2 separate regions of the Homo sapiens genome follow, and region 2 is linked to region 1. Evidence: fine-mapped expression QTL. A gene starts in region 1. The other region holds a variant in brackets. All regions are shown on one strand. Distances are between the middles of the regions. Region 1 holds the start of ANGEL2 (angel homolog 2). Region 2 overlaps RPS6KC1 (ribosomal protein S6 kinase C1).

Region 1 (4,271 bases):
ATATTTAAAATCTGGCTGCTAAATCTGTGAAGGATGAAGAGGAAAGCACCCATGATTTACCTATTGGCATCAATATCTCAATACTCTCGTCCTAAAAAACCATGAATGGTATTCTGAATACTTAACACAGAATGCCTCCCAGGCTCCCAAAATACCACATACCCCTGAAAATGTACATAGTTCAACTGAGAGATGAATCAACTATCAAAATGATATTCAGAGTAGCTTTCAAGCACCTACAAAACTCAATGAGAAAATAAAATACACAACAAGTATTATACTGAAATCGAATAAGGAACTCATATCACACTACAATTAAAGTAAACCTCTCCTCCAACTTGGAGTAATAACAAGTTTCTGAACAGTTTTTTATACCAAGGGCAGATTTTTCCAAACACTTGTATAGTTAGGAAAACAAAAGCCTATCCACAACTTCATAAATTCACAAAACTACTTCTCTTACTAATCAACGGGTGGATAATTTATTTCTCCATTCTTTTTTAAGCATGATTCTCGTTGGGGGAAATGAAAGAGGATGGGGATGACGTACTACGAATGCACCAACACTCCAAACCAACAGCTTCAATTTAACCCATCATCCAAAACATCTCCAAAGTGGCGCTAACATTTTTAATAGGTATGTTGCTCTCAGGCTCTCAAGAAACACTTCAGCTTAATAAAGCACCATGTTCCTCTCACTATACTACTTTGGCAAAATGTTAAGATTCAGAGAAGGACTTTTATCCTTTCCTCCAAAATTCTTAACAGCTACATTTCTACCACAGCATCAATAATGTGCGCTCCCATCCCTAAGGGAATTTTGTTTAAGTTGCGTTTACTGTTATTTAACTTTATACGCTGTTATTCTCGTTTTAACAGCATTTAAATTTTTATTATAATTTTTACAGTTTAAGTATTCGCTAGTTGTTCTCTAAAATCTACTTAATTGTAAATCTTTAAAGGCATAACATGGGCATTCTACACTGCTTTGTGATAACTCTGAAAGCCATAGGAATTTGGGCACTTGGTCCATGCATTTTCTATGCTAATAAGCCACTGTATTGAAATATAATACTTGTACTACAAAAGCTATTATCTATATTTGCAGTTATTTATTCAGACTTTTTTTTCTCTTAAGATGTTAAGCTCCTTCAGGGCCAGAACAGAACCGTCTTATTCATTTTAATTCCGTTATCTTCACAAGTGCCTAGCACAGTGCCTGGCAAACAGCTGGTACTCAGGAAACATTGTTGAACTGAATTACCATCAAGTCCCAGGCCTATGGGAGTTACAACCAAATCCCCATCGCTTATGTAATAATACATGCTGTGTTTCCCAAGCGTGGTGGGTGGTACACGAGTCGGTTTCACAGAGTACACAGTTAAATTACTTGATTGTAATTTCTAAATACTTATGTTAGTTTATTAGGAAAAAACATAATCGCACATCAAATCCAAGACTCTGCAGACACTGCTTAGGGTGAAGCTAATGTGGGCAGCACCTACTGAAGTGCTTTTTAAAAAAAACTGAGTCAATTTAAAGAAAAATATCCAGTAAATAATACACGTGAAACAAGAACTTGGCCATAACAGTAAGGGATGACATACAAGTGACTAAAGTTTGAAAGACACTAACACATCAACAAAAATCAAGCCCCTCCTGGGCGTGTGCCACACACGCGCCTCCAAGGGATCAGGCCCGCCGAGACCTACTGCGGAGAGGCGGCCTCCCCGCCGACGCTCGGTTCCCGGGACGGTGCTGCGGAGTGTGTGGAGCAGGCCAGCGCTGGTCTGGAGGCTGGGTTGGGGGAAGCAGGCCAGGGATCCAAAGCCACTGGCACAAGCCTGGCCGGCGGCCCATGAACTCCGCGCCAAGACCCCAGACCTCGTTGGCCCAGCGTCCCGCCAGCTGCGCGGCGGGTTTACCTATCCCGCTTGGTCTCTGGAGGCTCGTCCCGGATGCACCATCGCCCAGACCCTCTTCCTCTTCCTTCCACCCCTAGCCCGCCCCGCCCCGCCCCGGGTTAGTCCCGGACGCCCGCCCGCTCTTTCAGGCCGCCCGCCCCTCTCTCCTCCCTCCGAGTACCCAGCCCTACTGACCGGCCTCTTCCCACCACACAGTGGCCGTAGCCCTTCCTCACACAGCGCCAGGCTTCCATCTTCGCCCTCCGCGTGCGTCCAGTTCCCAGGCCCCGGGTTCCACCTCAATCTCTATAATCGATGCGACGGCCTAAAGTATCTAGGGAACCCCATCACTCTTAAGTACCGACTCCAGTCCTGGCTGCAAGGCATGCTGGGAGGTGCAGTCTCGCCGGCCGGCCTACACTCCATCTTGCGCAGTCAGAGTCCCTGAATGCCTTAACCCGGAATTCTGCTCAAGGAGCATGCGCAGAGCGTGGGACGCGCGTGCAACCATTTCTGAAGAGGGCAAAACACCCGAACTTCGTCTTAAAGAAACAGAAATAAACTTTCTTTTTTTTCTTTTTCTTTCTTTCTTTCTTTTTTTTTTTTTGAGATGGAGTTTCGCTCTTGTCGCCCAGGCTGTAGTGCAATGGCACGATCTCGGCTCACTGCAACCTCCACCTCCCGGGTTCAAGCGATTCTCCTGCCTCAGCCTGCCAAGTAGCTGGGATTACAGGCATGAGCCACCACACCCGGCTAATTTTTGAATTTTTAGTAGAGACAGGGTTGCACCATGTTGGCCAGGCTGGTTTCGAACTCCTGACCTCAAGTGATTCGCCCGCCTCGGCCTCCCAAAGTGCTGGGATTACAGGAGTGAGCTACCGCGCCCGGCAGAAATAAACAGAGCAGTGAAAATTTTTAATTGCCCAAAGTGCAGATTCCCAGCTGAGGCTGAACAACGCATCCTCTGGGTGCCCATGGAACTGAGGTACCACAGAATTTTGCAATTAATGTTGCGGAAGCACAGCCATAGCTCTCACTTTAAAATGTACGTGTATGGGCCGGGCGCGGTGGCTCACGCCTGTAATCCCAGCACTCTGGGAGGCCAAGGCGGGCGGATCACGAGGTCAGGAGATCGAGACCATCCTGGCTAACACGGTGAAACCCCGTCTCTACTAAACATACAAAGAATTAGCCGGGCGTGGTGGCGGGCGCCTGTGGTCCCAGCTACTCGGGAGCCTGAGGCAGGAGAATGGCGTGAACCTGGGAGGCAGAGCTTGCAGTGAGCAGAGATCGAGCCACTGCACTCCAGCCTGGGCGACAGAGCGAGACTCCGTCTCAAAAAAAAAAAAAAAAAAAAAAAAAGTACTTGTATGTCTTGTGTGTCCACCTTTATTAAATGTATTATAGGACTGTAGATTGTTGAAAGACATTATTTAAGTGGAGACCCTGCAAGAAACAGGAAGAGAGAAACCGAGAAAGAATAAAGTGTGGAGAGTAGAGGGGAAAAGGATACTAGAAGGCAGGAGCACTGCTTTTATAGGCTCTTTGAAACAGTGGTAATTTCTTGGGAAGGCTTTTCTTATCCCTGGTGCATAAAAGGAAGTAAAGTGTATTTGAAAAAAACCTTTCCCTCAGTATGTAATTGATTCTTGTTATTTGCAGTAGTTAGGTTCTGTAAAGTTGCTGGAAACACTGAATTAGTAAATACTGAATCATTACTCCTAAGGGAAATACAGGATTAGGATCCTGTAAGCCTCTGGTCGCATTTTCATCAACTTAATCAATACATAGTTTTGTTGTATGTGTGTTTCCGCTTAAAGACATCTTATTTAATATATATTGTTGATTCATTAACATTGAACTCAGTCAACAGCACTATAATTCATACCTCAACAAAGCTTATCTAACACTGCTATTTTCTCTGCAAGGCTCATGACAGCCTTCTTGTGCTTAGGAGCACTATACAGCACAACGCTTGGGGACCATTTTAAACAGCAACATCAACAAAAAGTACAAAAACGTGAAAAACATATCACTAAATGGAATGTGAAAAGGACACTTGGTCCTGATGGCTCACGCCTGTAATCCCAGCAATATGGGAGGCCAAGGCGGCTGGATCGCTTCAGCCAGGGAGTTCAAGACCACACTGGACAACATGGCGAAACCCCGTCCCTACAAAAAATACAAAAATTAGCCGGGCATGGTGGCTCTCGTCTGTAGTCCCAGCTACTCCAGAATTTGAGGTGAAAGGATTACTTTAGCCCGAGAGGGCGAGGCTGCAGTGAACCAAGATAGTGTCACTGTACTCCAGCCCTGGCAACAAGGGGACACTATGGTATAGCATGAGAGCTGAAACAAAAAGGCAGA
Region 2 (4,271 bases), 180 kb after region 1:
GCTGGGCTTACAGACGTGAGCCACCATGCCTGGCCTCTTTGTTGATTTTCTGTCTGAAGTATATGTCTGATGCTGAAAGTGGGGTATTGAGGTCTATAGTTTTTTTTAGTTTTTATTTTTATTTTTTCTGATGGAGTCTCACTACGTCACCCAGGCTGGAGTGTGGCGGCAAGATCTCGGCTTACTGCAACCTCCACGCTTAAACGATCCTCCCACCTCAGCCTCCTGAGTAGCTGGGACTATAGGTGCGCAATACCATGCCTAGCTAGCTTTGCATTTTTTGTAGATATGGGGTTTTGCCATGTTGCCCAGGCTAGTCTCAAACTCCTGGATTCAAGCGATCTGCCCATCTCAGCCTCCAAATGTGCTGGGATTGGAGGAGTGAGCCACCATGCCCAGCCTACGGTTATTATTGTTTTGGGGTCTATTTCTTCAGCTCTAATAATATTTGCTTTATATATCTGGGTGCTCCAGTGCTGGGTGCATATATATTTACAATTATTACATCCTCTTGCTGGATTGACCCCTTTATCATTATATAATTACCTTTGTGTCTTCTTATAGTTTGTCTTGAAATCTATTTTGTCTGATGTAAATATAGCTACTTCTGCTCTGCATGGTTTCCATTGGCATGGAGTATCTTTTTCCATCTCTTTATTTTCCGCCTGTGTGTCTTTATAGGTGAAGTGGTTTTCTTGTAGGCAAAGCAGCATTGGGTTTTTTAAAATCCATTCAGCCACTCTGTGTCTTCTCATTGGAGAGTTTAATCTGTTTATGTTCAATGTTATTGTTGATAGTTTAGGACGTACTTCTGCCATTTTGTTTTCTGGTGATTTTGTGGTCTTTCCTTTTTTCCTTCCTTCCTGTATTCCTGTTAGTGAATGTGATTTTTCTCTGATGGTATGATTTAATTTCTTGCTTCTTACTTTTTGTGTATCTATGGTAAGTTTTTTGATTTGAAGTTACCAGGAGGCTTGCAAGTACTGCCTTATAACCCAGGGGTCCCCCATCCCTGGGCCACAGACAGGTGTCACTCTATCGCCTGTTAGGAACCGGGCCTCACAGTAGGAGGTGAACAGCAGGCAAGTGAGCATTTACCACCTGAGCTCTGCCTGCTGTCAGATTAGTGGTAACACTAGATTCTCATAGGAGCGCAAACCCTATTGTGAACTGTGAATGCGAGGGTTCTAGGTTGCGTGCTGCTTATGAGACTCTTAATGCCTGATAATCTGAGGTAGAACAGTATCATCTCAAAACCATGCCCTACATGTACCCCCTGTCCCCAAGAGAAATTGTCTGAGGTGGAACAGTTTCATCCCAAAACCATTACCCCCACTAGTCTGTGGAAGAGTTGTCTTCCATGAAACTGGTCCCTGATGCCAAAAAGGTTGGTGACTGCTGGTTTATATAACATTCTTAAAATGACAAAATTATGGAAATGGAGAACAGATCTATGGATGCCAGTGTTTAGATTAGAGATGGTGGAGGAGAGAAGGGTGTGTGTGTGTTAGGGGGTGATTTGCAAGGGATAGCAGCAGGGAGAGGTTTGTGGTGATGCAACACTTTTGTTTTTTAATTTTCTAGTTTTTTTGTTTTTGTCCCTTTTGGAGAAAAGGCAAACACATTTATTTAACAGGAGAATCACAGAGTGAGCATCCTGGTGGAACACTTCTGGGTCTTGATTGTGCTTGTGGTTATGAGAATGTATACAATTGATAAGATGACATAGAACT[A/G]TTAATATGTACACACATAATACCAGTGTCAATTTTCTGCCTATAATAGTATACTGTAGATACATACAATGTAGCCCTTAGAGAAAACTTAATGGAAGGTACGTGGGAATTTTCTGTACAATGTTTGCAACTTTCTAGTGACTCTACAATTATTTCTGAAATAAAAAGTTTTAAAAATTCGTAACGTGTTTATTGGTCTGTCTTTTAAAATTATTTCAATAGTTTTTGGAGAACAGGTCGTGTTTGGTTCCATGAATAAGTTCTTTAGTGGTGATTTCTGAGATTTTGGTGCATCTATCACCTGAGCATTGTATACTGTACCCATTGTATAGTCTTTTCTCCCTCACTGCCCTTCCAGCCTTTCTCCTGAGTCCTCAGAGGTCATTATATCATACTTATACTGTTGCGTCTTCATAACTTAGCTCCTACTTATAAGTGAGAACGTATGATGTTTGGTTTTCTATTCCTGAGTTACTTCACTTAGAATAATGGTCTCCAACTCCATCCAGGTTGCTGTGAATGCCATTATTTTATTATTTTTATGGCTGAGTAGTATTCCATGGTGTGTGTGTGTGTGTGTGTGTGTGTATATATATACCATATTTTCTTTATCTACTTGTTGGTAATGGGCACGTAGGCTGGCTTCATATTTTTGCAATTGCAAATTGTGCTGTTATAAATGTGTGTGCAAGTGTCGTTTTCATATAATGACTTCTTTTCCTCTGGGTAGATACCCAGTACTCAGGTTGCTGGATCAAATGTTAGTTCTACTGTTAGTTCTTTAAAGAATCTCCATGCTGTTTTCGATAATGGTTATACTAGTTTACATTTCCACTAGCAGTGTAGAAGTGTTCCCTTTTCACCACATCCACACCAAAAAATTATTTTTTTTTGATTTTTTAATTATGGTTATTCTTTCAGGAGTAAGGTGGTATTGCATTGTGGTTTTCATTTGCATTTCCCTGATAATTTGTGATGTTGACCATTTTTTCATATGTTTGTTGGCTATTTGAATATCTTCTTTTGAGAATTGTCTATTCATGTCCTTAGCCCACTTTTTGATGGGATTATTTGTTTTTTTCTTGCTGATTTATTTGACTTCCTTGTAGATTCTCCGTATTAGTCCTTTGTGGGTTGCATAGTTTGCAGATATGTTTTCCCCCTCTCTGGCTTGTCTGTTTACTCTCCTGATTATTTCTTTTGCTGTGCAGAAATTTTTAGTTTAACTACATCCCATCTATTTATCTTTGTTTTTATTACATTTGCTTTTGGGTACTTGGTCATGAACTCTTTGCCTAAGCTAATGTCTAGAAGAGTTTTTCTGATGTTATCTTCTAGAATTTTTATGGTTTCGGGTCTTAGATTTAAGTCTTTGATGCATCTTGAGTTGACTTTTGTGTAAGGCGAGAGATGAGGATCTGGTTTCATTCTTCTACATGTGGTTTGTCAATTATCCCAGCACCATTTGTTGACTAGGGTGTCCTTTACCCACTTCATGTTTTTGTTTGCTTTGTTGAAGATCAGTTGGCTGTAAATATTTGGCTTTATTTCTAAGTTCCATTGGTCTACATGCCTTTTTTTGTTTGTTTGTTTTGAGATGGAATTTTGCTCTCGTTGCCCGGGCTGGGGTGCAATGGCGCGATCTCGGCTCACTGCAACCTCCGCCTCCTGGGTTCAAGCAATTCTTCTGCCTCAGCCTCCTGAGTAGCTGGGATTACGGGCATGTGCCACCATGCCTGGCTGGTTTTTGTATTTTTAGTAGAGACAGGATTTCTCCATGTTGGTCAGGCTGGTCTTGAACTCTTGACCTCAGGCGATCCACCCGCCTCAGCCTCCCAAAGTGTTGGGATTACAGGCATGAGCCACCGTGCCCGGCCTCTACATGCCTGTTTTTATACCAGTATTATCCTGTTTTGGTAACTATAGCCTTGTAGTACAGTTTGAAGTTGGGTAATGTGATGCCTCCAGATTTATTCTCTTTGCTTAGTCTTGTTTTGGCTATGTGAGCTCTTTTTTGGTTCCATATGAATTTTAGGACTCTTTTTTTCTAGTTCTGTGAAGAATGATTATGGCATTTTGGTGGGAATTGCACTGAATTTATAGATTGCTTTTGGCAATATGGTCATATTCACAATATTCATTCTACCCGTCCATCAGGATAGGATGTGTTTCCATTTTTTCGTGTCATCTGTGATTTCTTTCAGCAGTGTTTTGTAGTTTTCCTTGTAGAGATCTTTCACCTCCTTGGTTAGGTGTATTCCTAAGTATGTATGTATGTATGTATGTATGTATGTATGTATTTTTTGTAGTCGTTGCAAAAGGTGTTGTGTTCTTGATTTGATTCTCAGCTTGGTCACTGTTGGTGTATAAGTGCTGCTGGTTTGTGTACATTGATTTTATATCCTGAAACTTTATTGAATTCATTTATCAGATCTAAGAACTTTTTGGATGAGTCTTTAGGGTTTTCTAGGTATATGATCTGTCTGTTTTGTCTGCTATATAAGTAGTTACTCCTGCTTACTTTCGGCTTTCATTTGC

Evidence for each region. PIP is the estimated chance that this variant, and not a neighbour inherited with it, causes the effect. A credible set is the group of variants that fine-mapping cannot tell apart.
Region 2: its variant is the best candidate, but not a certain one, in a credible set for the expression of ANGEL2 in blood mononuclear cells (TOPMed, PIP 0.76).

The regions. Positions count from the first base shown.
Region 1 is chr1:213,013,514-213,017,784 of GRCh38, forward strand. It overlaps ANGEL2 (angel homolog 2), which reads right to left and starts at 2,354. Exons shown (of 9, transcript NM_144567.5): 1 at 2,100-2,354. The coding sequence starts at 2,158. RefSeq lists enhancers at 1,191-1,779, 1,780-2,367, 2,080-2,389.
Region 2 is chr1:213,193,527-213,197,797 of GRCh38, forward strand. All of the region lies in intron 8 of RPS6KC1 (ribosomal protein S6 kinase C1), which reads left to right. Among named protein-coding and RNA genes, the nearest start is that of RPS6KC1, 140 kb to the left of the region's middle. The variant A/G (reference allele first, on the strand shown) is at 1,734.